Linked DNA regions of Homo sapiens: all the other regions are linked to region 2. The links come from fine-mapping of genetic effects on gene expression. A gene starts in region 2. Each other region holds a variant in brackets. All regions are shown on one strand. Distances are from middle to middle.

The links. PIP is the estimated chance that this variant, and not a neighbour inherited with it, causes the effect. A credible set is the group of variants that fine-mapping cannot tell apart.
Region 1: its variant is the best candidate, but not a certain one, in a credible set for the expression of CDK5RAP2 in skeletal muscle (FUSION, PIP 0.58).
Region 3: its variant is the best candidate, but not a certain one, in a credible set for the expression of CDK5RAP2 in blood mononuclear cells (TOPMed, PIP 0.73).

Annotation. Positions count from the first base shown.
Region 1 is chr9:120,395,635-120,405,262 of GRCh38, forward strand. It overlaps CDK5RAP2 (CDK5 regulatory subunit associated protein 2), which reads right to left. Exons shown (of 38, transcript NM_018249.6): 33 at 8,402-8,479; 34 at 7,172-7,437; 35 at 5,108-5,251. Among named protein-coding and RNA genes, the nearest start is that of MIR147A, 160 kb to the left of the region's middle. RefSeq lists an enhancer at 6,768-7,736. The variant CA/C (reference allele first, on the strand shown) is at 5,976.
Region 2 is chr9:120,576,956-120,587,855 of GRCh38, forward strand. CDK5RAP2 (CDK5 regulatory subunit associated protein 2) reads right to left here and starts at 3,212. Exons shown (of 38, transcript NM_018249.6): 1 at 2,965-3,212. The coding sequence starts at 3,023. RefSeq lists enhancers at 2,884-3,446, 3,300-3,429.
Region 3 is chr9:120,427,657-120,438,556 of GRCh38, forward strand. CDK5RAP2 (CDK5 regulatory subunit associated protein 2) reads right to left here. Exons shown (of 38, transcript NM_018249.6): 25 at 9,639-9,871. Among named protein-coding and RNA genes, the nearest start is that of CDK5RAP2, 150 kb to the right of the region's middle. The variant G/T (reference allele first, on the strand shown) is at 8,199.

The DNA.
Region 1 (9,628 bases), 180 kb before region 2:
TGGTGAGTTGTCAGCTCACGAAGAGTCACTTTAGTTTGTTCCCAAACTTGTTTATGGTAGCTGTACTTGTAATCAAATTGCATAATTTAATTAAATATTAAGTAAGCCCATGAAATATGTGTATTAAAAGAGAGAACTGGTTGTATGAAAACTAACATATGCTTCAGGAAAGACTTGATAAAAGCAAGTCACTAAAAAACACATTTCTGGCAAATTAGGTGTGGGTGAGACAACTATAAAAGATGTGGGAGGAACACAGTCTAGAAGAATTCTATATTCAAATTGCTTTGCAAGTGTCTAAGTTTTCTCTTCATCTTAAAGAAACAGAAATTGGAAGTGACAGACATACATTATGGATGCAGTTTATGAAAGAAAGAAGATGTGAAACTCCAATCAGCAGACCCATATTCAAAAGAAAAGGCCCTGGCCCTACATCAAAAGAATGGCAAATGAATGTACATTTATCTGTTTTAAGTTAAACTAAAATGTTTAAGGTACATATCATTTTTGATTCCCTGACTTAACCTACTTTTAAGATTAACCAGTCATGTCAGGTACAAGGACTTTGACAGTTCTTCCCAAACAGATCCTAATTTTAAACATTAGGTTTGCTTTGATTCTTTTCCTTGGGGCTAAGAGCTCACAAAGACTTAGGTTCTGGTCATGGCTCCAGAGGCCACACATTCCAGGACAAAGTCTCTCTACAGTCAACGCCTTAGTCCCACATCTGTAAAATCGGAATAATCATCCCTGATCCAGCTATCACATTGCAGTAGAGTGAGACTCAAATGAGATAATGGAAGACAGTGGGAATGATCATTTCCAACTTGGCCTGGCTGACCCATTCCTTGTTCTAAAGTCAGCTCAGGTTTCACCTCTTCCAGGAAGTTGACCTGGCACTTCTTTTAGGATGGCTACTGCTCCTCTGGGTGCCCCGGGGCTCAGTGTCTCCCCATCACCGCCCATGGCACACTGGAGTGACTGGTCCTTTACTTGTTTGCTTCCTGTACTGACCACACACTCATTTCCTCCCTCTAACCACCAGTGTCTGGCGCAGAGTAGGTGCTGTGACACCATTTACCCACTCATGGTGGATTAATTTTCACTAGTGCTCTCCTAACATCCTGTATATATTCTATCCAGTACTTACAACAGGGAATTTTAATTGTTTACATGTCTGTTGTTCCCCTGGATTCAAATCTTCATTTTATAGGATGAATATTCCATGGTAGCAACAGCAGGGGCTCAAAGTACAGCTCCACCACTCCCCAGCTATATGACGCTGAAGCAAGTCACTTAATCTCTTGGAGTTTCCATTCCTACCTCTGGAAAAAGGGAAGAATCACAGCTAACTCCCTCAAGATTTCCGCAAGGGATCAAATGAGATGCTGGGTGTAAGCAGCATGCCCAGTGTCCGCAGGAGGTCACCAGAAGAACCCTTCCTGAGGGCCACAGAGCTGCAGTGCTGAAGCCACTCCCTCCCAGGAGGCCTCAGGCTTCCTCGTCAGTGTTCTGCCTGACTTCGGGGACAGGAATTTTTGCTTGTTTTCTTTTTATGGTGAAAAAAATCTCAAACATTTACGAAAGCAGAAAGAACTGGATAATGAACGCCCAAGTGCCCATCCAGCTTCAGCAATGATCAATTCATGGCCATACTTACCTCTACTACATTCCTGCCCATCTTCTCCCCAAGATGATTCTGAAACCAACCTTAGAATCCAATTGTATCATCTATAAAATATTTTACTAGATCTCTCTAGAAGATTTTTTTTTTTTAAATAAAGACAGCATCTTACTATGTTGCTCAGGCTGCTCTCAAACTTCTGGCCTCAGGTGATCCTCCCACCTTGGCCTCTGAAAGTGCTGGGATTACAGGCATGAGCCACCATCCCGGCCATAAAAACATTCTTAAAAAAAAAAAAAAAAAAAAAGAAAAAAGAAAAAAAAAAAAGCCCAACACAGTATCATTATGACACCTTAAAAAAAAAGGCAGTAATTCCTTAGTATCACCACATCCAGTCAGTGAGCACACTTCCCTGATTGCTTCATAATTTTCTTTTCTAAACAATTGGTTCAATTCAGGATGCAAATAAGATCCATGTTTTGCATTTGATTATCTCTTGAGTTTCTTTAAATCCAGTGGTTCTCAAACCTACCTAGAGGGCTACAAAAACAGACTGCTGGGGTGCACTCTCAGAGTTCCTGATTCAGCAGGTTTGGTGTGAGGCCTGAGAAGGTGAATTTTTGACAAGTTTCCAGGTGATGCAGATGCTGCAGGTCCAGGGCCCACACTTATGGGAACCACTGTAAATCCATAGGGTTCTCTCCCTCTTTCCCCACGCTGGATCCTTTCTTACTAGGATGAAATACGTTCTAGGCTCATACTGTACATCTCCTGCCCCAGACCTAGCAACAACCCATTTCTCCAAGGGAACCCTAGTTCCCTTTAGCGGGCAAAGGTATCTAGAAACCATAATTTGGGCATCAAGGGCACTCACTGGTGCTAGAACAGACATTGTTTCTAAAGCCTTGTATGTTGACAAAGTTCATAAAATTCTTTTAATGGATGATAATACATCACAAGTTCATTCTGATATGTGCTATTCAAATTTAGGATTACAGGGTTATTTCTTTGATTTCTTATCTCTTTTTCCTTACAGTAAAAAATCAGTTCCCAATAAAAGTATTTGCTTTATCTTATAATAGAAATATAATAATTCAGAATATGAATATCAATATTACTACTAAAAATATAACCATTAACAAGAGTTTAAATTTTTTTCTTGCCCTTAGAATACTTCTACTAGAAATGTGTGGTCAAATTACTATGCTTTAGTCACTGAAATGCTTCCTTTTTGTGTTGTTATGCCTACATTGCCATATACAGTAAGGTTTGTTTCATCTTGCCAAGAATTTTTAGGAATTGTTTTCTCATTTTGATTTTTTATAATCATGTAATGCATTTATATACTTGCTAAGTCAAATCTACAAAACAAGGTCTATTCAGAGAAATCTACCTTCTATCTGTTACTCCAATCTCTCCCCTTCCATTACTATATGTAGCCTGGTTTGTTATTGTTTATCCTCCATTTAAAAAAATTATTATAAACAAGTATGTGTGTACATTTGTACCCCTCCACACAACTGGTGCACATGATACACACTTTCCAGAGCAGTCCAGACTACATGGGATGGTATACTAAATGTAAAAGGCAATTAATAACACTCAAGAGAAAACCAGATAGTTCAAAAACCCCTGGGTTGTTGGTGAAAACTTGGAAATGGAAATCAGCATTACACACATTTCACACCAAGCAAAGGCACTGTATGAAACACAGCAGTGACAGAAAAGTGGCTAGAGGCAATTTAACACTACACAGGGGGTATGTACCCCAGCAACCACATCGGAGCATCTCAAAGGTCCTTTTTCTGGCACAATTCCATGACATCAGAGTGAGCATAATCAATTACTCAAGAAACCTTTGGAAGGAAAGGGGTACTCAGGAGCACCAACCACTCCTGGAATGATTTGCAAGTAGGGAAGAATCAATGTGGCTATAACTTTTTTTGTGTGTATATATATTTTATATGTAAGTGTATGAGCTGTATTTCTGTCTATGTAACAGTTACTACAATGTGCTAAGGATAAAAACATTGCATTAAGGGTCAACTGTTCAGTTCAGACATGTTTATGTTAAAATCATATGAGGCAGGCACTACTTTGGGTGTATAGAAAAAAAATCACTGGTTCATTCAAAAAATATAAATAAAACAGACACCATCCTCTGAAGGAAAATAGAGGAAGACAGGCATTAAACAAATATACAATTATAACTTGTTGAAAGGCTATGATGAAACAGAAGAGGATGCTATGATGGAGGAATCAGGGAGCCCTCTCTGACTCTGGGGTAATATTTAAGCTAAGACTTGAAAGGTGAGAAGGAGCCAGCCAGAAGCAGGACATGGGACACTCCAGGCAGTCAGGCCATCTGTGTCACCTAAGCCTAAGATGGAACAGGACCTGGTGGATTAGAAGAAGGGAAAGACCAATGTGGGGCTGGACCCCAGTGAGTCTCAGCCTTCCTCCCTGATACTCTGTCTCCCACCTGATACTGCCACCAGCTAAACGTGGGCCAAAAAAAGATTTTTCTATGGAATGAATAGTTATCAACTTCCCTGAGCTTAGTGTATCCAAACTTTGTCCCCAGGATCCCAAAAGTGAAATCTTAGAACAGGCTCATTAGAACCTTCAGAGCAGAGAGAGCTGCCCCACCTGCTACTTCATGGTCATGTTTGAGAGACCTGAGAGCTGTCAAAAGGGGGTTAACTAAATGAGATAATGACAAAAAATGTAAATTTCCCTTCTGCCTTCCTACTGGCCTTTGGCAAGAACAGATAGGTTAGATAAACAAAGGGTGAAATATCTATCACACCACCAAGCAGAGAGTTCTAACTCTTCCTTAACCTGCAGGTCCCTTCCTCCAGGGAGGTTTCTCTGATTAGCCAGAGTGGGCGTTCACCTTGTCATGACACCACATGCATCCCACACACAGAAATCAGAGGACAGCTTCTACTCTGCCTGACTCCTGGTTTGGAGCCTGTCATTCCTAAGTACTTAAAACAGATTTTGAACAAGGTCCACTCAAATATGATGATGAAAGCTGTCGATAGGAATCAGAAGGTCCAGAAAAAGGCACCTAAAATAAAAGAGATGATGAGTAGAAAAGAATGAGCTAGTCCATGAGGACAAATTAGGACTTAGAGCCTATAAAATAAAAGAATAAACATTGGGTTCCAATATTTATCCTTTCAAACAAGTTCTAACCTTGACTAAGTGCCTCAGCTCCCTGAGTCCTGGTTCCCTCATGTGTAGAATGCGGACGGGATTCTACTCAACAAAGACACGCTCAGACGGGTCATGGCTACAGGAGTGTGGGACGGATCAAGTAAGAACACAGTGAAGCCATGGCAAACGGTGCCATCTCCTCCCTAATACATACCCCAAATGGTGGGCACATCTGCTGTGGGCCCCTGCTTGGCATGGAGGAAACTGAGACACAGGCCCCAGTGGCATCCTTGAGCCTCTGAAACATGTGTCACCACCTACCTGCTCACAGTGAAGGGGGCACTGGCCATCCTCGGGGAGTGAGACTCTCCAGAGAAGCTTCAGCCGCCTGTAGGCCTCTTCCAGGGTCAGCTTGGCCGTGCTCACACTGCTCACAAACTTGCTCAGTGGTGCTGGGTGTGGACCCTACACGGGGGATATGAAGGCTGTTACGTGCAGTCTTGAAAAAGATTTTAGACAAGCAAGCCTTAACATGCAGTATAAATCTCCAGACTGTAGGGCTTCTGTTTCACACGCTGAGCGAAAGCCTGGTACCACATAACACCAATTTATTGTTCTTAAAGACTGGTGAATTGTAGATTATGAGAGAATTTCAGTGGTGATCTTAGCCCAATCAATAACCATGATTAATAACCACCATGGTTAATAACCACCAGCATTAACTACAGTTACTACTCCAAGTAAAGGGTCTGTGGGAGGGCCATTCTTACTGTTTGGCGACCCACAGAGACTCGCCCAGAGAAAATGACACCAACAGCAAGCAATAAATGGTTTGCCTTTACTGGTCCCTGTTAAATGGCCCTGCTGTAGTGAATATGATATCAGGGTCTTGTACTGCTGGCAGAGCAAACTCAAATTGGGCGGTATCAAGGGCACAAGAAAATTATGTATGTGACTCAGAAAAGGGGAAATACAAGCCCAGAAATTCGAGACCACCCTAGGCAACATAGTGAGACCCCCATCTCTACAAAAAAATAAAAAATTAGCTAGGTGTGGCAGTGCACACCTGTAGTCCTGGCTACTCAGGAAGCTGGGATGGGAGGATTGCTTAAGTCCAGGAGGTCAAGGCTGCAGTGTGCCATAATCATGCCATGTACCCCAGCCTGGACAACATGGCCAGACCCTGTCT[CA/C]AAAAAAAAAAAAAAAAAAAAAAGAGAGAAAAAAGACACATCCTTTTTAGATATCAAAGTAACAAAAAAATCATTATAAATGAAAATATCTGGGCTGGGTGCAGTGGCTCACGCCTTTATCCCAGCACTTTGGGAGGCCGAGGCAGTTGGATCACCTGAAGTCAGGAGTTCAAGACCAGCCTGCCCAGCATGGTGAAACCCCGTCTCTACTAAAAATACAAAAATCAGCCGGGCATGGTGGCAGGCGCCTGTAATCCCAGCTACTAAAGAGGCTGAGGGAGGAGAATCACTTGAGCCCAAGAGGAGGAGGCTGCAGTGAGCCAAGATCGCACCACTGAACTCCAGCCTGAGCAACAGAATGAGACTCCATCTCAAAAAAAAAAAATTTTATATATATACTGCCAGGCATGATAGCTGACGCCTGTAATCCCAACACTTTAGGAGGCCAAGGTGGGAGGATCATTTGAGCCCAGGAGTTCGAGGCCAGCCTGGGCAACAGAGTGAGACCCTGTCTCTAAAAAAAATTTTTTTTAAAAGCCAGGTGTGATGGCACACGCCTGTGGTCACAGCTACTTGGGAGGCTGAGGCAGGAGGATTGCTTGAGCCTAGGAGGTGGGGTCGAAGCTACAGTGAGCCATGATCGCGCCACTGCACTCCAGCCTGGGTGACAGAGCTAGATCCTGTCTCAAAATAAAAAAAACACAACAACAACAAAACCTCAACAAAAACAAAAATGTAGTGAGACAAACGTTCATGAACAGAGATAGAATTGTTTTGCAAAGTAATGGAGCAACAGTTATCATCAAGAGCCCTAAAAAGTTCACAACCTTTGAACTAGTAATTCCACTTCATAATGGGCGACAGCCAGGTGGATGGGCAGATGAATGGACAGACACACCAGGGTGCAGATGGAGAGAAGAATGGATGAGAGACCAGATGTACAGAGGCCGTCATGGGAACAAGACAGCAGAGCCCATGGAGCAGTTGCAGGAACACAAGGCACAAACCCCACCAAACACAGCCACCACCAATAGTTCCCCACACTGGACCTGACCTCTGAGCTCTCTGAGGCCACACTTCCTGGTCCCTCTTCTCAGGGTCCTAATGAGGACAACTGCGCCATTTGACTCCCCTCCCCCTTCCACCGACACTCCCAGGGAGCAGCTTGTGCCCCCCAGCTCTGTGGTCAGGTTACCTTTGTTCCCAGCTCTTGACTTGTGGAGCTGGGAGCCTCTTGGGTTTGAATGTCCATTTCAGCAAGGAGCCTCTGTCCCTGGCTGATCTGTTTGAGCAGGGCCTCATAGTCCTCAATCAGGCCCAGGACATGGCGGCCATTCTTGCTGGCCCACAGGTGGTGGCCAGTGACCAGGCGGGACACACACGGAGTGCTAGTTGCCGAACTGCCACTGTCGCAGGAGAGGGAGTCCGTGTCATTCCCAGAGAGTGGAGGAGTCTCTGAAACTGTAAAATGAGAAGTAGGATGTAAAATCTGTTTCAGGTAACACTCTGCGTTCAAGACGCTTATGATGTTGAAGCTAGCTAGGAGGGCTAGAAGAGGCCCTCGTGCCCAAATGCCACCCAACACAAGCCCAGAGGGGAAAAGAGGCACGCTCCTGGACCTCTGTATATTACCCCACACTGGGCTTATGAGTCATCTTGTAGGAGAGGCTCAAGTCAACTCAACCAACACTTATCAACCACCCACTCGGCAGAAGACCCCAGATTCACAAGGATGACTCAAGCTGGTGCCTGCATTCCAGTAGCCCACAGTCTGATCAGAACACAGACACTGCAGAAGGTGCAACAGCAGAGTGATGAAGGGCCAGAGCCAGAAAAAACAATTATCTGTGCAGGGAGGGAGAGAACAGGGAAGGCTTCTGAGAAGGAGCAGCATTTGAACTGGATTGAGCAAGTAGCAAGAATTACACGAATGATGAGTCATTCTGACCAAGGACAGCAGCAAAGGCATGTCACAGAGAAATGTGTATTCATGATGAGTCTTGAGGAAACGGGACTTCTACCGGCAAAGAGTGGGACAAAGGGGGTCTAAAAGTCACAGTGAGAGGAAAGTGTGGGCCTGTCTGCAGGATGGTGACCCCTGTGTGGCTACACCAGGTTAAGGGATAAGGCTGGACGGACCCACTGGAGCTGGATCCTGGAGGGCCTTGAAAGCCTCACAAAGGTGGTCACAATTTTAATCTAAGGCAAGAGGGACCCAATGATGTTCTAACCTTGGTAACACCTAGGAGTGGATTAACTGGCTTGAAGGAGAAGATCACCAGCTGGGGATGCTGAGAACTTGAAATCCCAAATCCTTACCAAATACCCTCCTGAGTTGGGACCAGGGACCCCCCTTTTCTGCAAGTTAAAAAGTCTTACTGTCACATCCAATGCTCCCACAGTTACCTGGACTTCAGCTTTGTACCTGATTTTGGTGTCACTGCCTGGGAGGAATCAAACAGATCAAATGAATTATCACTTTCCATGGGATATTTGTCACCATCTACAAAATGCAAAACACGAGAACTGTTAGTTTCACTGTTGTCAGCATTCAAGAGAGAACTGAAAGAGAATACAGTCAAGCCCCTCACATTCACTTATCCATACACACACAGCATTCCTTCAAATCTTCACTGGGCCTCTGTCCTGCCAAGCCCACCTTTGTGGGACACCAGGGAGACAGAGTGACCAGGCCCAGTCCATTCCCTAGAAAAACTCTCAGCAGAAAAGTAAATAAGCAATTTTATTTTAGTGTGATCAAGGACAAGGGAGGGAAACACAGGCTGTTGGGGCTCAGGTGAGGGGCACTACCCCCAACTTGGCTTCCCAAAGGCTAATACCCGTTTTAAAACCTTATGTTTTAAGACTGATTGTGACTGACCTATGGTAAGAAGGAGGGAAAGAAATGCCAGGCAGCACAATGGGCAGGTGAGAGGCAGACAGTGGGACAAAGAGTGGAATCATCGCTCAGGGAGAAATAAGCAGTTCATAGACCCAAGGCCCGGGTGCAGGGAAGGACAAAGTAGAATGCAAGGCCAGAACCAAGAGGACTGAGGGGCCCACTCAAGGGCTTTGGGCAAGGCAATGTCAAGCTGAGGTCTGTATTTTGTACTGAAAGAGTAAGTCTGGAGGCTGCCACACTAACCTAAGCTAGAGATGAGAGTAACCCACAATAGGATCTGGGGGGTGATGTATTTGCAACACTGTAAGGAGGCAAAACCAATAGATGCTGTACAGATGACCTGTGCAACACGTTATAATTTGGAAAGCACTTTCACATATGAAAAGCTATTGGACTCAATAGCTCAGTGGGCAAAACACACTGTAATTCAGATTTCATGGAAGGGGAGACCAAGGGGCAGAGATAGAAAGTGATCTGTCCAGCATAACCCAGCATGTCAGTGGCACAGAGCAAGGAAGCCTAGGGCTTAGGATCCCCCTTCCGAGCTCCTGCACCACTGGGCGGTGGGCTGACTGCACTCCAGCATTTCCCAGGGGTGTGCTACAGTTCCTAAGGCCAAGGAGCCAGGAGGTCAGCTCCATAGAGCTGGCCCCAAGAGGAATCACTCTCAGTGAAAGACATCAGCCTTTAGAACAGAATTTTTAAAACAGATGCACTTAAATACAGACCTGAGAAGTCTTTTGCAAAGGA
Region 2 (10,900 bases):
CATACTACAACACGCATGAACCTTGAGGACATAATGCTAAGTTAAATAAACCAGTCACAGAAGGACAAATAGTGTATGATTCTACTTATACGCGACACTTAGAGTAGTCAAAATCATAGAGACAGGCTGGGCGCAATGGCACATACCTATAATCCCAGCACTCTGGGAGGCCGAGGCAGGCACAACACTTGAGGCCAGGAGTTCAAGACCAGCCTGGTCAACCTGGTGAAACCCCGTCTCTACCAAAAATACAAAAATTAGCCAGGCGTAGTGGGGCATGCCTGTAGTCCCGGCCACTAAGTGGCTGAACCATGAGAATTGCTTGAACTCTGGAGGCGGAGGTTGCAGTGAGCCAAGATCACTCCACTGCACTCCAGCCTGGGCAACAAAGCGAGACCCTGTCTCAAAAAAAAAAAAAAAAAATCATAGAGACAGAAAGTAGAATGGTGATTGTCAGAGGCTGGGAGAAGGGGGGAATAGGGAGTTACTGTTTTAACAGGGACACAGTTTCTGTTTTGCAAGATGGAGAGTTACGAAGATAGATAGTGGTGACCGTTGAGCAATAATACAAATATATTTAATACAACTGAACCATGCTTTAAAATGGTTAAGATGGAATGTATGCAGTATCTACGTCCTGCAAAGGCAGGGAGATGAGGGAAAGGAGAATATTTGCTGATCTGTTGAGTAGTTACTCTGGGTCAGACACTGAGCTAAACTTTTTAAGATTCATTTTAATCCTTATGCCAACCCTAGGCTTTATACCAACCCCTTTTACAGATGATAAACACTGAGGCTCACAGATGATGAGTGACTTGCCCCAGATCAAGGGGTTGTTAAGTAGCAGAACTGGGATTAAAACCCAGCTAGGCCTGGGACCCCAAAACCCAAGTGTCTGGCCAAAAAGCACTGAAATAAGAATGGCTATCTGAGAGAATAATAATGGAAGTTATGATAACAGCAATAAGCAGCATTAAAAGTATAAAGCAGCAGACTGTGAAGAGCAGATTTATATTTAAAAAATAGTTCTCACGCCGGGCGCGGTGGCTCACGCCTGTAATCCCAGAACTTTGGGAGGCCAAGGAGAGCAGATCATGAGATCAGGAGATGGAGACCATCCTGGCCAACATGGTGAAATCCCGTCTCTACTAAAATACAAAAATTAGCCACGCACGGTGGTGCACTCCTGTAATCCCAGCTACTCCGGAGGCTCAGGCAGGAGAATTGCTTGAACCCGGGAGGCGGAGGTTGAAGTGAGCCGAGATCGCGCCACTGCACTCCAGCCTGGTCACAAAGCAAGACTCCGTCTCAAAAAAATAAATAAATAAAAAATAGTTTTCAAATTGTAGTATAAAAAACTATTAGAGGTGCAAAGGACAATACAAGAGAGAAGCCATACTCCCAATATATTGGGGCAGTGGATGTAAAATAGATAGAAAAGGGCATGATGAAATATCACAGGACCCAATTAGACAGGAACTGCAAAGCATCTTAGTCTGTGCCTCATACATGAAGGTTCTCAATAAACAGAAAAACCATTTGTCCAGGTTTACCCAAGATAGGCCCTCTTTATGTCTGCTGCCCGGGCATAAATATTAATTATTTTCACTTTCCTTTTTTTTTTTTTTAAAGATAGAGTCTCACTTTGTCACCCAGGCTACAGTGCAGTGGCATGAACACAGCTCACTGCAGCATCAACCTTCCGGGCTCATGCAATCCTCCTGCCTCAGCCTCCCGAGCGGCTGGGACTACAAGTGCATGCCACCACGCCTGGCTAATCTTTGTAGTTTTTGTAGAGATAGGATTTCACCATGTTGCCCAGGCTGATCTCACACTCCTGAGCTCAAGAAATCGGCCCACCTCGGCCTCCCCAAGGGCTAGGATTACACAGGTGAGCCACCGCACCTGGCTCTTTTCACTCTTAAGTGTCCCAGTTAGCACAATAAATAACATGGTCACCCTTTCAATTAGGATCTGTTGACTAAAAGCAGCAGCTTGTCCATAGTAGAGCTGGATAAACAGTGCAGGTTCTCCGTCAGGGCTCTCCTCCTCTTCCCTCTACTCACTCTCCAACCAGGAGTCTAGGACAACCACAGGGGCCAGCCGTGGAGCAGAGTTGCGCTCTGTTAGGCCTTCCTACCAGACCCCAGCTCCACCAGCAATGGGGACTCCCACAGTCTCTTGGGGCAGGTCCATGGGAGGCCACTCTTGGCCATTATTCCCTGATTCATATCACCTTTGATGACAGTAGTAATAATGACACTAATGGCAACACAAGATCATTTTTTAAGCACTGATTATGTGGCAGGCACTACACCTGCCAAGCAAATGGCTCGACAGGCATCACCTCTTTTAATCCTCACCCCAACTCTGTTGGGTGGATATTACTAGCCCATTTTACAGATGGGAAAGCCGGTGAAATCACTTTACCAAGGTCACACAGCTAGTCAGTTTACAGGGCTGGATTTGAATCCAGTTTTGTCCAACTCTAGCCAAGGTTCTTAATCATTGCACTCCATTGCCTCCTGGGTGGCCACTATGTGACCCAAAAAGCAAAGTCTGGGCATACCGGCTACACTCTCTCCATAATGAAAACAAACTCTCAAACCAGAAGGAACCATCAGGTGCCCTCAAGGTCCCTGTTCTCCACCAATCCCCACTAACGGGATACTCCAAGTGGCCCCACCCTCGTCCTACTCTTTCAGAAAACTCCTTACCTGTTCTTCACACGCTCTACAAAGTACATGGCGCAATGCTACTGGCAATTGTGGTGCAGGTCGCGGCTCCCAGCCCTCCAGAGTGTCAGGTGGTGGGCCCCCCAGAGACCCTCTCCGAAGGAACCCACCCCACACACTGCCCCTGGCCAGACACCCTCAAGAGCAAACCCCAAGGCCGCGTTAGAACGAAATCCCACCAGCTGGAACCCCGGCCCGGTTACCACGACCACCAATGCCCCGGCCGCACCTGCAGCCGCTGAGCGTCCCAGGGACGGTGACGTCCTCTTCCAACACCAAGTCCATCATGGCTACAGAGGTGGCGACAGCGTTGGTGTCTGTGGCGGCGGCGCCACTAGTACCCCCCGCGATAGCGACCCGCCGGGCTCCCCAGGTCCCCGCCCCCTCCACCCCAGCTCTTGTTCAGACTCTGGCGGCGCCGCTGGAATTCAAACCACAGACGCCGCCATCTTTCCCGGCGCTTCTTCCTACGGAAACGAGGCGGGGTCACGGAGGCGCACGCAGTGAAGCCGACCGGCTGGCGCCAGAGGACGGGCAGGGAAGCGGGGATAGGTGCCATCTTAACTAAGGGCAAAGCATCCGTGCTTAAGCCAAGCAAAAATAAGAGACAAAAAAAGGCCGGCTGCCATTTTTTGTGAGGGCACTTAGGGAGAGGCGAGGGCGGGTGCCATCTTTGTTGAGGGCCAAAGCGGGCCCTAGTCCGTTAATTTACGCGGGAGATGGAAATGAATACAGCCACTCAGGAATCCTCAAAGTTCCTAACCTCGTGTTTGCTTTTCTAGAATAATGACCCCAAAACTTTGGGATTTGACCTTAAGTTGAAACTCAGATAACTGAGTGCTGCCTTGCTTTGGAAAAATACTACGTGCGGAATCTCAAGGCAAACAGTAATTTGCAGACTTAGTTTGAAGCAAATAACTCATTCCCATGAGCCAGTGGTCAACAGCACTCCCACTCCAGTCTCTCACCTATTGGTCTTTTATTACCATTAGGACTCAAAGGCACCTGTGGTCAGAAAACTGAGGGCCAGCAAGAGGAAAGGACTCTCCCAAAGTAATTAAGTATTGACAATGTCTTTCAACTGGAGTGGGGGTCTGCAGCTCCTGCCAACTAGATGAGGGCTCTCTGCATAACCCTGGCTGCCTTTCTTTTTTTTTTTTTTTGAAATGGTGCCTCTGTCGCCAGGCTGGAGTGCAGTGGCCCGATCTCAGCTCACTGCAACCTTCACCTTCTGGGTTTAAGCGATTCTTCTGCCTCGGCCTTGCGCCACCACACCCGGGTAATTTTTGTATGTTTAGTAGAGACGGGGTTTCACCATGTTGGCCAGGATGGTCTCAATCTCCTGACCTCGTGATCTGCCCACCCCGGCCTTCCAAACTGCTGGGATTACAGGCGTGAGCCACAGCACCGGCCCCTTGGCTGCCTTTCTTAAAGCACATAGCAATCACCAAACACTTAGATAATCTTGGCAGAGCTTAAGCAATGAAATTAACCTTCCCCTCCTCAACTCAGTGTTGCTCCTTCCTCTGCAGGCCCTTGTGAGAGAGCCCGATGAAAATAACTTGAAATGGTTGGTGAGTGGATAGATAGTGACTTTCCCAGTAATCTTGAACAATTCCCCTTTCACCCTGTTTCCTCATTCTTTTTTTTTTTTTTTTAAATAGAGACAGGGTCTCACTATGTTGCCCAGGCTGGTCTTGAACTCCTGGCCTCAAGCAATCCTCCCACCTTGGCCTCCCAAAGTGCTGGGGTTATAGGCCTGAGCCACTGCACCAGGCCCTCATTCTTCAGTTAAGTAATTAACCAATTATTGATACTTTTCAAAAGAAGCCTTCCCTAGTCATTTAATCTAAATCAAGCCACTTCTTGTATTCCTAGCAATGCAAATTATTCCTTTGTGGCACTTACCATATTTTGCAATTTGTGTGTGTGTGTGTGTGTGTAAAATCATTTTTTAAATGTCTTTCCTTGCACTAGACTGGAAGCTGCATGGGGCAGGGACTATATTCTGAATTGTTCACTGCTATATCCTCAACACCTAGCACTATGTCTGCCACTCAGCAGCTATTTGAAAATGTATGTTAAATGAATGAGTGATTCAATCAATCAGTCTGGAAATAAGGCCAATACCTATCCTGCAAGGTTTTTGTGAGAATAATCAGAGATACTTTTAGGACCTCTGTCAATAGTAATTCTGTGTATCCCAGATTCATATTCATTCTCTCTCTTTCTCTCTCTCTCTCTGTCTCTCTCTCAGCTTTAGTTAGGCTTCCAAAGCCCGCGATTATTTGCCTGTCCCCCTTCTTTCTCTAGATCTTCAACCACACCCACAATTAGCAATGATAAAAGCATGAAAAAGAGGGAAAGCTTAGCACACCTGGTGCACTGCCTCAGGAACGGGGCAGTCCTTGAAGCCCAGGAACCAATACTCCTTGCCAGTAAGTTCAACCCATGAGATAGGTGTGTCCAAAAGCAGGGAAGTTGGGGTGTCAGGATTCCCACCCTGGCTCTGCCACCAACTCTGTGATCTTTGGCAGATCACCTTTTTTTTTTTTTTTGAGATGGAGTTTTGCTCTTGTTGCCCAGGCTGGAGTGCAATGGCACGATCTCGGTTCACCACAACCTCTGCCTCCCGGGTTCAAGCGATTCTCCTGCCTCAGCCTCCCAAGTGGCTGGAATTATAGGCATGCACTGCCACGTCCGGCTAGTTTTGTATTTTTAGTAGAGGCAGGGTTTGTCCATCTTGGTCAGGTTGGTCTCGAACTCCTGACCTCAGGTGATCCACCCACCTCAGCCTCCCAAAGTGCTGGGATTACAGGCATGAGCCACCCCACCCGGCCTGGCCAATCACTTCTCTGTGGACCTCAGCTTCTACATCTGTTAAATGAGAGGGCTGAACCTCTCAGGGTCTCTCAGGATGTTACAGCTCTGGAGGTGATTTCTACATTTCTTTTTTTTTTTTTTTTTAAGATGGAGTCTTGCTCTGTTGCCCAGGCTGGAATACAGTGACGCGATCTCAGCTCACTGCAACCTCCTGGATTCAAGCGATTCTCCCACCTCAGCCTCCCAAGTAGCTGGGATTACAGGCACCTGCCACCACGCCCAGCTAATTTTCGTATTTTTAGTAGAGACGGGGTTTCACCATGTTGGCCAGGCTGGCCTCGAACTCCTGACCTCAGGTGATCCACCCACCTCGGCCTCCCAAAGTGCTGGGATTACAGGTGTGAGCCACTGTGCCTGGCTTCTGTGTTTATTTCAAAGCTACTAACATACAACCAACTCTCTCCTGGGGAGGGAGGCTAACACTTCCCACATGAAAGAACTAACTTTGCATCTCCAGCCAATGAAAACTCTTGAGAATATAAACAAGGAAGAGAACTTATACATTTTGAGCATGTCTTATACGTCACTTGTTCCAGGCATATTACATGCACCACCTCATTTAACCCTCCCAACAACCTTCTGCAGGAGGCGCTACTATCTGACTTACAATTGAGAAGACTGAGGCTGCAAAAGGTAAAAACTACTTACTGAAGGTCCTACAGCTGGTAAGTGCCAGAGCTGGAATTGAGACCAGGGCCCTTTGAATTCCAACACCTTGATTGTTTCAGGCAACCTGTCATCCCCATTTGGGTTTCTCTTTTGCTTTAGAATTTAGTACTAAGAGGCAAGGTCTACATCCAGACGACAGTATTTAAGGGTTGTGTTCACCAGACTCTACTCCTTGGGAAACTGCTTCAAAGTGGCTAAGAGGTGAATCTTAGTGTGGGCAGTTTACAGAACTGGAAGTCTGGACACCTGGATTCTGACTCTGGAAACTCCTCCCATTTATCCTGTGACCTGGGGTTCCTTCCCCTTGCTACACTTCGATTTTCATGTGTAAAATGGGGAGGACAATGCTGAGTTCACATGGTTGCCTCATCTAATTGAATACCTTAGACATTATTGAAGATGAAAGAACCTGTGAGGAGTTGGGTTGTTTTTTTAACTTATTTAATTTTTTTTTTGGACACAGGGTCTTGCTTTGTCAACCAGGCTGGAGTACAATAAGAGTGATCATAGCTCACTGCAGCCTCCACCTTCCAGGCTCAGGTGATCCTCCCACCTCAGCCTCCCGAGTAGCTGGGACCACAAGCAGGTGCCACCATGCCGGACTAATTTGTTTATTTTTAGTAGAGATGGGGTCTTGGTATGTTGCCCAGGCTGGTCTCGAACTCTTGGGCTCAAATGATCCTCCCACCTCAGCGTCAGAAAGTACTGGGGTTATAGACATGAGCCATCACGCCCAGCCTAGGATCTCTCATTATGATTAGTCCATTGCCTTGTTCAGCATGACCATGTCCCTGGGTTGCGTGCTAAACCCTTTAGTGAACCTAGAAACTGAAAATAGAATCAATTGCACAAAGGAAAGGCTATTTGGAAGTTGGTTTTCCTGCTACTGTAGTGGTTTCATGTTCAGAGACAGAGGCCTTTGTCCTGTCTCTGTCTCACCATGATCTTTCTGCCAAACCTAGAGGTGACGTCACTACCACCAGCTGTTTGGGCTATCTGGGGCTATCTCCTTGACAACAGCCACCCAACCACAAAGCTGGCATTATTATTTCCTCAGACAAGGTCATATCAAATGGCTGGGAGGAAGTAGCTTGCAGTCAGATGTTTTTCATTTGGGTAGAACCCTCCTGAAGCTTTAACAGATCAAGACATTTGCACTGCCATTACTAACAGCAAAAATAACTTTTTATAGGATCAATATATACGCAATGCTACTACTTTGCACTCTTCCGTTTTATCCTCATGATGCTGTGAAGTGAATTGGGTTGATCGCCCTACTCTACAGAAGAAGAAACTAAAGGCTCAGAGAGGGGAAGAGATTTCCCAAAGGTCACACTTTTTTTTCTTTCCTTCTTTCTTAGTTTTTTATTTAGAAATAATTTCAAACTTAGAAAAAAGTTGCAAAAATAGTACAAAGAATTTCTAAAATATTAACATCTTCCACAACCATAGCACAATTGTCAAAAATAAGAAATTACATTGATACAATATGACTTATTACAGATCTTATTTAAATTTAATCTTTTCCCATTAATTCCCTTTTGCTGGTCCAGGATCCAATCCAATATTCCACACTGCATTTACTTGTTACATCTCCTTACTCTCCTCCAGTCTCTGACAGTTCTGTCTTTCATGGCAATGACACGCTTTGTTTTTGTTTTTGTTTTTGTTTTTGAGACACAGTCTCACTCTGTCACCCAGGCTGGGGTCCAGTGGCACTGCAACCTCCGCCTCCCGGGTTCAAGCAATTCTCCTGCCTCAGCCTCCCAAGTAGCTGGGACTACAGGCGCACACAACCACACCCAGCTAATTTTTGTAATTTTAGTAGAGACAGGGTTTCACCATGTTGGCCAGGATGGTCTCAATCTCTTGACCTCGTGATCTGCCCACCTCGGCCTCCCAAAGTGCTGGGATTACAGGCATGAGCCACTGCGCCTGGCCCAAGCTGCCCTTCTAAACCATGGCCGTGCTGAGATTCAAACCCATGCCTGTCTGGTCCCACAGTTGGCAGTATTTCTGGCAGACACATCTGCCCCCTTGCTCCCAAGACCTCTTACCAACCAACCCTCAACACCAGCAGTCCTTATTAGGACCAGTTCTCAATTAGTACCCACTGCCTTCTCTGAAGAGCAGGGTGATCAAGTCAGTGATGCCTTCTGGGCCCAACATGTAGCCCCAGGCTGTGCACATAGTAGATGCTCAATGCCAGTTTGTCAAATTAACTCCAAGTCCTGACTTTTTCTCAAGATGGAAAGTGGAATGAGAAATACCAAATATCAAAGGAATAGAATATAGATTATTGGACTAGGGATGGTAACACACATCAACATAATATAAGGTTAATACCAATCTCCCAGTTCAACTCTCTGGGCCTATTTTCTTATCTGTATGCTGAGTGCATTACACTACAACATTGAGGCCCCTTCAGCTGTGATGTTCCATGAATAACTAAAATTAGCTACCATATATTAAGCTCTTTCTATGTGCCAGGTACTGTGTTATATACTTTGCATTCAATCCTCACAATAACCTTATGAAACAAGAACTGATTATGCTCCAACTTTATGGTTGACAAAACTGAAGTACAAAGAGAAGAAAGAGTTGCCTGGCCATTGAAGGGGATCAAAATATGCCATCCCAACATATGCCCCTTTTGCATAAGGATTATTTTGAGCTGAAGACAATTGAGAATCAACAGATGCAGAAAGAATTTTCTGCCTTCTCCTTTTCTACCCTGAAGCAGGACATAAATTCCCCTTTGTGAACATGTGCCTCCTCCCTGTCTACCATTAGTTTCCCCCATATATTCCCTAATCACTTCCCCATGATTTATCAGCCTTGAAGCTCAACACTCCCTTCTTTTGCTATAATGGGATAAAAGCCCTTGAGCCTAACCACTTATTTGAGTTTCACTTCTTTTCTATGAACTCTTGTGCACATAACTATTAATAAAAATTAATATGCCTTTTCTCCTGTTAATCTGTCTTTTGTCCATTTAATACACAGAACCCTCAGGTACTGAACCAGACAGGTTAAAGGAAAGTTTTGCCCCGACACCATCCAAGTAGCTCAGTTGTGAAGACAGGATTTGAACCCAGAATTCATCCAAAAGCCCATGTTCTTAACCACTAGGCCGTAGTGCCTTTCACTGAATACCTGTCCTCAAGAAGCTGGTGAAAATGCACATACATAATTATGAAACAAAGCAAAACATTTTAAATACTTTGTTGGTATAAGAAAGATAACAGGGCTGGGCACGGTGGCTCACGCCTGTAATCCCAGCACTTTGGGAGGCCGAGGCAGGTGGATCACAAGGTCAGGAGATCGAGACCATCCTGGCCAACGTGGAGAAACCCCGTCTCTACTAAAATACAAAAAAAATTAGCCGGGTGTGGTGACACGCACCTGTAGTCCCAGCTACTCAGGAGGCTGAGGTAGGGGAATCGCTTGAACCTGGGAGGTGGAGGTTGCAGTGAGCAGAGATCGTGCCACTGCACTCCAGCCTCGTGACAGAGCAGGACTCCATCTCAAAAAAAAAAAAAAAAAGAAAAGAAAAAGAAAAAGAACAGTGAGATTCTAGGATCACAGAAGGGATTGAGTCATTCTGATTGAGCAGTTGGGGAAGGCTGTTTTACAAGTAAGACCTATGCCCTGCAAAAGCAGGATAAAAACCTGTACATACTATTATGTGCACTAGCTCCTCATGTTTGAAGGCCAACAGAGATCAAATAAAATCCCTACTTGATGCAACTATTTAAAAAGCCCATGTCACATTCTTCATCCCTTGATTCTACCTCACAACAGCTCTAAGACAAGTTTGTTATCATTCTTCTACTGATAAGGAAATTGAGACTCAGAGACATGAACCGATTTTCCCAAAGTCACACAGCAAGCTAGTGACAGAGAGGAGCTTGGACCTCCATTTCCTGATTCACAAAAGGTGGTTCCTGAGCTTTTTGAAACTTGCAGGAGCCAGAGATATGTCCCACGGCAAGATCTCCTACCTAAATTGATCATCCTCAGTACGATGGCCACATCCCCACCCACTTAAATCCAGGGTCTGGCTAACAGAGATCTAAAAGCTGCTGGAAAAATTATCCTAGGATGCCAGAGAGTGCTTTCAAGCACCCTCTCCAGCTGCACATTGAATATGTAAAGCAGCAATAGCTCTAAGCAGAGAAGGGTAATTGAATTAATCAACTGTCTGGACATTTTGCAGATTAAAAGAAGTACTTAATGTCTTGTGACTTGCAGGAGGGGACGGTAAACTTTGCATCTCCCTTAAATGCAGTGAATTCACATTGAGAGCACAGAGCAGGAACTAGAGAAGGATGAACACAACACTTGTGGCAGCTGCAGTGCCTCCTTCCTTAAAGGGATAAATGACAGTCCCCTTTTCCTTGCATGTGTCCTCCTGTGTGTGTGACATGCCACCAAGTACACTGCACAGGCTGTGCCCTACACAAGCACATCCACCCAAAGGAGGAGTGGAGGCTGAAATTGAGTCCGTGCTGTGCTGGACAAGCTGTGAGTTTATCCCAAAGCAGGGATGCCTTTTTTCTAATTCACACAAAAGAACTATACATGCCAGTGACTCTTAGAGTCTAAAATAT
Region 3 (10,900 bases), 150 kb before region 2:
CCTGGAGGATAGGCAGAATTTCTCTAATTTCTCTAAGTGGAAAGGGAGTAGAAGTCTTACAGAAAAAAATAATGGTTTGAACGGAATCATGGAAGAGGGGAAATGCAAGGCCTGGCCCACAGAAATGTTTGATCAACAGAATATACATTTTTTTCAGCACCACACCATACCTATTCCAAAATTGACCACATAGTTGGAAGTAAAGCTCTCCTCAGCAAATGTAAAAGAACAGAAATTATAACAAACTGTCTCTCAGACCACAGTGAAATCAAACTAGAACTCAGGATTAAGAAACTCACTCAAAACCGCTCAACTACATGGAAACTGAACAACCTGCTCCTGAATGACTACTGGGTACATAACGAAATGAAGGCAGAAATAAAAATGTTCTTTGAAGCCAACGAGAACAAAGACACAACATACCAGAATCTCTGGGACACATTCAAAGGAGTGTGTAGAGGGAAATTTATAGCACTAAATGCCCACAAGAGAAAGCAGGAAAGATCCAAAATTGACACCCTAACATCACAATTAAAAGAACTAGGAAAGCAAGAGCAAACACATTTAAAAGCTAGCAGAAGGCAAGAAATAACTAAAATCAGAGAAGAACTGAAGGAAATAGAGACCAAAAAAACCCTTCAAAAAATTAATGAATCCAGGAGCTGGTTTTGTGAAAGGATCAACAAAATTGATAGACCGCTAGCAAGACTAATAAAGAAAAAAAGAGAGAAGAATCAAATAGATGCAATAAAGAATGATAAAGGGGATATCACCACCGATCCCAAAGAAATACAAACTACCATCAGAGAATACTACAAACACCTCTACGCAAATAAACTAGAAAATCTAGAAGAAATGGATAAATTCCTCGACACATACACTATCCCCAGACTAAACTAGGAAGAAGCTGAATCTCTGAATAGACCAATAACAGGATCTGAAATTGTGGCAATAATCAATAGCTTACCAACCAAAAAGAGTCCAGGACCAGACGGATTCACAGCCAAATTCTACCAGAGGTACAAGGAGGAACTGGTACCATTCCTTCTGAAACTATTCCAATCAATAGAAAAAGAGGGAATCCTCCCTAACTCATTTTATGAGGCCAGCATCATCCTGATACCAAAGCCGGGCAGAGACACAGCCAAAAAAGAGAATTTTAGACCAAAATCCTTGATGAACATTGATGCAAAAATCCTCAATAAAATACTGGCAAACCGAATCCAGCAGCACATCAAAAAGCTTATCCACCACGATCAAGTGGGCTTCATCCCTGGGATGCAAAGCTGGTTCAATATACGCAAATCAATAAATGTAATCCAGCATATAAACAGAACCAAAGACAAAAACCACATGATTATCTCAATAGATGCAGAAAAGGCCTTTGACAAAATTCAACAACCCTTCATGCTAAAAACTCTTAATAAATTAGGTATTGATCGAACGTTATCTCAAAATAATAAGAGCTATCTATGACAAACCCACAGCCAATATCATACTGAATGGGCAAAAACTGGAAGCATTCCCTTTGAAAACTGGCACAAGACAGGGATGCCCTCTCTCACCACTCCTATTCAACATAGTGTTGGAAGTTCTGGCCAGGGCAATTAGGCAGGAGAAGGAAATAAAGGGTATTCAATTAGGAAAAGAGGAAGTCAAATTGTCCCTGTTTGCAGATGACATGATTGTATATCTAGAAAACCCCATTGTCTCAGCCCAAAATTTCCTTAAGCTGATAAGCAACTTCAGCAAAGTCTCAGGATACAAAATCGATGTACAAAAATCACAAGCATTCTTATACACCAATAACAGACAAACAGAGAGCCAAATCATGAGTGAACTCCCATTCACAACTGCTTCAAAGAGAATAAAATACTTAGGAATTCAACTTACAAGGGACGTGAAGGACCTCTTCAAGGAGAACTACAAACCACTGCTCAATGAAATAAAAGAGGATACAAACAAATGGAAGAACATTCCATGCTCATGGGTAGGAAGAATCAATATTGTGAAAATGGCCATACTGCTCAAGGTAATTTATAGATTCAATGCCATCCCCATCAAGCTACCAATGACTTTCTTCACAGAACTGGAAAAAATGATTTTAAAGTTCATATGGAACCAAAAAAGAGCCCGCATCGCCAAGTCAATCCTAAGCCAAAAGAACAAAGCTGGAGGCATCACACTACCTGACTTCAAACTATACTACAAGGCTACAGTAACCAAAACAGCATGGTACTGGCACCAAAAGAGAGATACAGATCAATGGGAACAGAACAGAGCCCTCAGAAATAATGCCGCATATCTACAACTATCTGATCTTTGACAAACCTGAGAAAAACAAGCAATGGGGAAAGGATTCCCTATTTAATAAATGGTGTTGGCAAAACTGGCTAGCCATATGTAGAAAGCTGAAACTGGATCCCTTCCTTACACCTTATACAAAAATTAATTCAAGATGGATTAAAGACTTAAATGTTAGACCTAAAACCATAAAAACCCTAGAAGAAAACCTAGGCATTACTATTCAGGACATAGGCATGGGCAAGGACTTCATGTCTAAAACACCAAAAGCAATGGCAACAAAAGCCAAAATTGACAAATGGGATCTAATTAAACTCAAGAGCTTCTGCACAGCTAAAGAAACTACCATCAGAGTGAACAGGCAACCTACAAAATGGGAGAAAATTTTTGCAACCTACTCATCTGACAAAGGGCTAATATCCAGAATCTACAATGAACTCAAACAAATTTACAAGAAAAAAACAAACAACCCCATCAAAAAGTGGGCGAAGGATATGAACAGACACTTCTCAAAAGAAGACATTTATGCAGCCAAAAGACACATGAAAAAATGCTCATCATCACTGGCCATCAGAGAAATGCAAATCAAAACCACAATGAGATACCATCTCACACCAGTTACAATGGCAATCATTAAAAAGTCAGGAAACAACAGGTGCTAGAGAGGATGTGGAGAAATAGGAACACTTTTACACTGTTGGTGGGACTGTAAACTAGTTCAACCATTGTGGAAGTCAGTGTGGCGATTCCTCAGGGATCTAGAACTAGAAATACCATTTGACCCAGCCATCCCATTACTGGGTATATACCCAAAGGACTATAAATCATGCTGCTATAAAGACACATGCACACATATGTTTACTGCGGCACTATTCACAATAGCAAAGACTTGGAACCAACCCAAATGTCCAACAATGATAGACTGGAGTAAGAAAATGTGGCACATATACACCATGGAATACTAGGCAGCCATAAAAAATGATGAGTTCATGTCCTTTGTAGGGACATGGATGAAATTGGAAATCATCATTCTCAGTAAAGTATCACAAGGACAAAAAACCAAACACCGCATGTTCTCACTCATAGATGGGAATTGAACAATGAGAACACGTGGACACAGGAAAGGGAACATCACACTCTGGGGACTGTTGTGGGGTGAGGGGAAGGGGGAGGGATAGCATTAGGAGATACACCTAATGCTAAATGACGAGTTAATGGGTGCAGCACACCAGCATGGCACATGTATACATATGTAACTAACCTGCACATTGCGCACATGTACCCTAAAACTTAAAGTATAATAATAAGAAGAAGAAGAAATGTTTGACCAGTTAATCCAATTTGATAGGAGTGTGAAAAGCACGATATCATGGTGGTTAGGAGGGTAGACTGTGAAAGTGAACTACATGGACTCAAATTCAGACTCTGTCACTTCCTGTCTGACTTAGACCAAGTGAATGAACCTCTCCGTTCCTCACTTGTTAATAAATGAGGATAATAAATAATACTTCCTCTTAGGCTGAGAACAATGCCTGGCATATTGCAAGCACCCAATAAAGATCAGTCTTTCTCACTTCCTCATTGTTTCTCCTTCAACTTCTTCATATCATCATCATCATCAGAGGGTGGTGGGCTGGCAAAGGCCCCTGGCAAAGGCCCCCTCCAGACTGTGGAAGGCCTTGAGAAGAAACCAATGTTTCAGGTTCACTTCTTTCAGCAGAGAACTAAGGCAAAGGATTCCAGGAGCTATCTTTGTTCATGTGGTGAGCTCACTGATCAAACTGTCTTCTTTGTACCTTTCCCAGTGTCAAACACAGCTTACTCAAAAATACCTACAGACAAAATACCACCTGCCTTATTCATACAACTGCTCTTGGGAGGCACCAAGAACAAGGATACAGTGGAAACTCTGGCTGCAACACCAGTTCCTGATCTATTTTGATCCCAGCCCTCTTGGGAATCTAAGTTATAGACCCTCACCCCAGAAAAATGTACATTGCAGGTTTCCAGATCCCTAGTGGAATCCCTAGTTTAATGGAGCCAAGGGAGAGTCCCCTTATAAGCATTAAGAAACAACGCTACCATCCTACTTCTTGGAGCCTACCAACCAAACATTATTAAAGAAATAGCAAGGATATGCACAAAGATTCCAGTACAGTGTTCTTTATAATAGCCCCAAAATGGGAACAATCTGAATGTTCATCTAATGGGGAATTATTAAATAAATTATGGTACATTTATACAAAAGAATGCCCTGCAGCCACTAAAACTTACAATGTATACTTATTATCTATAACTGAACAAAGGGAGAGGATGCAAACAGTCCCATTTCCATAAAAAATACACATATGAATAAAAAAGGTCTGGGCATATATACTCCAGGGTATTCACACTTTGTTGTGTGATGCAACTATAGGAGTATTTGCTTATCTTTTATTCCACAGTAAACATGTATTGCTTTGTATTAATTTTTTTAAAGGCTATATTTAAATTTTTAAGAACTCATGCTATATGACTGCCTCGAATATAAAACTGTTTTATGATAAGCTTGTTTCATAATTCAAGAGCCAGACCCCTTATATGAATCCAAGAAAGAGCTACCTCTGTGTTACATTTTAGTCCCCAAGAAAAGGAGCTGTGGTGAGGTTTCTGGGACTTTTATGCTTTTTGTAGGAGAAAATCAAGTTCTATGTTTGTGTTATCTGCTAAGTCTAAAATGCTTCGTCTGCCTGCAGAACCCACAAAGAATAAGTAGGCTCTCCTTGGGTGTGTCAAGGTAAATAACTAAAAAATAAACCAAGGGGAGTGGCTAGATGAAGGAAGGAGGGCAGCTGGTGCCAGAGGCACCCACTCTCAGCTCTCCACTTCCTAGGGCCTAGAGTGAGAGCCTTCAAGAAGAGGCCGACAGAAAATGACTTGGGCCTGGAAGATACGGCTTTATCATGAGGACCCAGATAGTTCTCCACTAATAAAATGAAAACTAGCTTATTTAGAATACCCTTAGCTACAAGGAAGTAGGTTTTCATAAAGCTGGGAAAAGTCAGGTACTCCTATATACCCTGGTCCTCAAAAGTCCTGGGAACCGGTATTAGCAAAACCAGTCTACAGCAGGTCTAAGCTGCTGGGCCCTTCGCAAAAGCTGGGGGAAAACATTCACTAGGCCCAGATGGGTAAACTATCCCATGTTCTATCCTGGAATTAAATGAACTATGTGGGCCATCATAAACCATCTATTTTGTACATATGAAGACAAGAGGAACAGAGTTAAATCCTGGTTCCGCCAAGTCAGTTGTGACTTTGAACAACAAACTCTTATTTGTTAAGTCTAAGTTCCTCACCTGAAAAACAGGCTGTTCTGAGGATTAAGCCCCAACTCACAGCAAGTACAAATACTAATAAGCACTCAGTACGTAAGAACCATGCACCCAGCACTGAGCCAAGCAAGGCTTCACATCCATAATTTAATTCTTACAAAGGCTCCACCAATTAGGTATTAGAATGCTAAGTTTACAGGTGAAAGAAGAAACTGAGGCAAGGAATTAAGTAAATTTCCCAAGGTACACAGCTTACGAGTGGGAAACCAGAGCTCTAATCTGGCCAGCCCAGCTCCAATGACTGCATTCTTCACTACTAGGCCCATTTATTTAAATATGTAAGGTTATTTCTCTATGCCTCAGTTCATCATCTATAAAACTGAACTAATACATTGTGCTTCCAAGGTCATTGTGAAGTTTAAATCAAATAACCTATATGATACCAACTATAATACAAGTAGCTCTAGTAGGAAAAGTTTTTTGTCCAGAGACCTGATTTAAAATCCCAGCTCTGCCATTCACTCCACAAATGGTCACAGATGAGTTGCTTACTCTCACTGGGCCACACTCTCCACAGCTGTAACACTAGATTCACTGACTCACTCACTCATTTATTCATTCTCTCAAAATATGTGTTACGTGTCCACCATACATCAAACGTTATCTATATCCTAGCACTACAGCAACAAACACAACAGACAAGATCCATGCACCCTTGTAGGGCTTACTTTCTACAGGGAAGGCAGAATAAAAAACATATAACATGCAAGATGGTTAAGATGGTTACGGGTAGTAAACACATAACATGCGAGATGGTTGTGGGTAGAACCGAGGAAAATAACACAGGGTAAGGGAAAAAGGGAATGTCAGTGATAGGCAGGGGTGCCTTGCTATTTCATAAAGAGCTGTCAAAGAGCACCTCGTTAATATGATGACATTTGAGACAAGGCCTGAAGGGATCAGGGACACCAGACAGAAGAGAAAGTGCAAAGCCCCTGAAGGAGGAGCTGGCCTGGGCATGCTAGAAAAACTGCAGGGTCAGTAGCTGGGGAGGGGAAGCAGGAGAGGGTGGGGCGGCAGAAGTAAGGAGAGAGTGCAGCCAGGGCGATGGTACAGGGCTTTGCAGGCCCTTATCTGGACTTTTACACTGAATGAAAAGGAAAGGCTTTGATTTGGGGGCAGAGATGGGACATGATCTGACTTACATTTTTAAAAGATCACTGATTATTGTGTGGAAAATGCACTACAGTGAGACAAGGATGGAAGCCCAGAGGCCAAACAGGAGAGGCCTGCAGCATCCAGGTGAGAGAAGAGAGGCGAGCTGAAGCGGTGGCAGCAATAATTGGTGGTGAGGACTGGTCAGGGATGGAAGACGTGCAGAAGGCGGGGCTGCACAGAGGCAGCCAGGGAGGGAGAGGAGAACTGAACTCTCAGTGGCATCGTCTGGAAGCCAAGTCAGCCAAGGAGGGAGGGATCAACACGTCAAATACTGCTGCAGTCTGAGCAAGATGAAGACTGAAAACTGATCCTTGGATTTGGCAAAGTGGAAGTTGTTAGTGTCAGGCAAACTGTTTCAGTGGAGGGGTTGAGATAACTCAGAGTCCAGTCCCAATGGGTTTAAGAGAGAAAGGGGAATGGAAAGCAATACTACTGGAGATAAGGGAAAAGGAGAAAAATAATGACTTCACACAGCAATTTAAAAGGATACAGTTTTGACTCTGGAATCATGCTAATGTTATACATATTCAAAAAATTAAATCAATAAAAATAGGGTAGAAAACTCTAAAATTGAATACAAATAAAAACAAATGAATCTAATTGTGTTTCAAATGACTAACCCAACAACAGCTGTACAAAGAATGAAACCAAACAACTTTTAAATTCAAGAACATACTATAATGTATTTTTAGCCTAAAAACAAAGAGAACTACTTTAATAAACAAATCTTAAACTCTTCCAGTGGGTTTGTTTTTCACAGTGGAAAGGGTGGAGTAATTCTGGAACTATGTGTATATATTACAGAACTGAGTAAATCAGCAGATATGGTGATGTTGTCAGAGCCAGGGTTCTTAGTGTTGGAGAAGGGAAGTAAAAATGTGGAAGCGGGAAAAACAGGAAAGAACCCAGTGAGTCTGGACTGGAATTAAAGGCACCATTGTGAAGTAATGATTTTTTTAAAAAATAAATTACACATTTACACACACACACACACACACACACACACACACGCCTGCTAAAGGGCCTAGACACAATGATACCCTCGTAGCAATGAACACACCTAGCACCAAATCTTGGTGGTTAAATATCATTCCTCACTAAAAGGAATCAAGGCTCTTGGAGAAATGGCTCATTCAGGGCAGAAGCAGTACAGGATGAGCATGGAAAATCTATTTTGTCCCAGAAAGTAAGGACGTACTCCCAAAAAGATGGAGACATGTCAAAAGAAACTGCCACTTACCAAATCTGGGACAATATAATATGAATGTCAGAATGGATAATAGTCCATTGAATAAAATAAGAATCTTTAAGCCCACACTGATCATAAACAAACAAGAAATATAGTAATAAAAGGAATTAATA[G/T]AGAATGCATTCTTCTAGTACATGCCACCTAATATAAATGAAGAAGGAATGTGATTAAAAAATGTTAGTGTTAGAAAAAAACTGTCATAGGAACATTTGACTCAGACAAGAATCATCAATATATGGTAAAACTCATGGTAGAAGTTTGAAGAGGAAGAGAATACTTACAGAATAACAAAGTATCTTCTACAAATTATTCATTACACAGGTTAATATAATTTACACTGGAGAAAACTGACAGACATTACCTTAAGGAAGTGATCAAAGTTAATATCACCAAAAACGGGATTAATATTGTGTGCCTCCTTAAGAAAACACCATAAGAACAAAATAATCTCTTATGCAGCATTCCTGCCAAAACTGCATAGCCAATCTAATCTAACCAATTTAATCTAATCATGAATTGAGTCTTGCGGAAAGAACAGATAATCCCAAAGCGAGGGGCTAGCCTGAACTATTGAAGTATGTTCACATCACGAAAAGAAGAAAGGGTGAGGAACTACTCCGGATTAAAGGAGACGAGAGACACATGACAACTAAATGTAACGTGGAGACTGGATCCCGGACCAGGATCAGGATCCAGAATAAACTGTCATAAAAGACATTATTGAATTAATTATAAAAATTCAAATATAGGCTGTATATTAGATAATAGTATATTAGACAACACCTTTTCTGATTGTGATAACAATACCATGGTTATGCACGAGAATTTCCTTGGTCTGAGGAACCACACCCTGAATTATCTAGGGAGAAAGGAACATCATAGCATCAATCCACTCTCATAGAGCTCAGAAAGATAATAATAGAGCGCGTGTGTGTACAGACAGGGAAAGATAAAACAAATGTGGCAAATGCTAACAACTGATGAAGCTGGGTGCACAGTAAATGGGAGTTCTTTGCTGTAGTCTCAAAAAAAAATTATTTTAAAAATTTTACCTAGCACATAGCAAAGGTTTCTTTCACCCTTCCTCTGGCCATCCTTAACTCTTCGATATACTTTTTAACTGATAAAAATTTTGCTTGGTTGACTGGATTTTTTGCTTGCCAACATTTAAAACACATGAGTTTTCACAAAAAAAAATAAATAAATAAAAAATCCCATCTTTTCTGGAAAATTTGTAAGATGCAAGAACTGGCAACTACGTGACCACTGCTGAGTGAGAGGCAGTGCCTTCTGGCTGGCTTCACTCATGTACCTCACCAGCCCGGCCCCTGAGGCGTCTAAACTGGACTCCTGGTTTGTAACAGTGCCGACCACAAGCCATGTGGAAGTGGTCACTGGGAGGAAGCAGCAGCCAGTGTGGTTCTGCTGTCACCTCATCAAGGCAGAGGGGTGAAAGATAACTAAGGCCAAGGAGTTAGCTCCTCCTGTGCCCCTCCAAGAAGTCCTGGGTCAATTACTGATGTCTTAAGACTCGCGTACCTCACCCTACCTACCGTTGAGAAATAGCTTTTCCAATTTCTCCAGCAGCTCAGCACATTGATTCAGCTGTTCCTGGAAACCCTCGGCCACACAGTAATCCACATCACTGGCCTGCAGCAACTCCTCAAATGCCTTAATCATGGTGTTCATGTGTTGACGGGAGATGACACAGATGCCATGGCCATCCTTAATCTGCTGCCGTTGAAGGGAGAGCTCCCTGGCTTGGGACTGAACTAATGAATCGTATCTGATAAAAGAGGGGAAAGAAAATACTTGGACCATTTTAGAATTGAATTTTTGTGACCTTAACACTAATTGGAAAAATGACAGAGTACAATTTTTAAAAGCCTGCAGCTGTACAAGTATATATACTTTTAGAAAAATTGAAACTGTACAAGGTCAGCTCTTCTTTGATTTCACACAGCCAACAAAGGCTGGAACAAAGATTCTTCTGCAACATTTTTAACCTTATAAAGCCCCCAATTAAAGTACAGATTGGCAAGAACTCAGGCAAACAATAAGTTTCCATACACTCTTCAAAAATACTATTCTGAATTGTAGAAACAAGTGCCCCAAGGGTCAGAGGATCTACCAAAAATTCTCATGAAGTGTGATAAAGAAAGTGTACCACAAAGAAAAAAAGACAGGACTCTCTCCTCCCGAACAAAACGTCACTGAATAATCATGATGCTAACTACCATTTACTGAGGGTCTAGGACCTGTCAGTAACTGAATTCAGTGCTTTATATGTTATCTGATCCTCTCAGTCTTCCAACAAATGTATAAATGTCCCCTTTTACAGAAGAATAAACTGACTGCAAAGCTAATTAAGTGGTAAAGATTTTGGATTCAAACACAATTCTCACTTTGAAGATCATTATGCAATATTACCTTTTTACCGTCATGTGCCACCTTTTCCTACGTGAGCCCATAAGAGAAAGACACTGAGAAGTAAACAGGTTAAGGGAAATGTGACTCATGTAAACTGGCCACAATAACCTTGCTCCAGAGAGTAGCTTGGCAAAGATGTTGACACTTCAGTTCAACATAATTTTCTCCTTCCTGGAAATGACAACACTACATGGGCTGGCAGTCACCTTCAACATAGAGTGTGCACATGCAGATTACATGATACCAGCATTAAAGGTGGGGGCCAGTATCATGTGAGTACTGGAGTAACATGGGTAAACATGGGTAACTCATGAGTAACATGAGTAAACATGGGTACTGGAGTGGGATGATGTGGGCTTGAACCCTGGCAATGGCTCTGACCAGC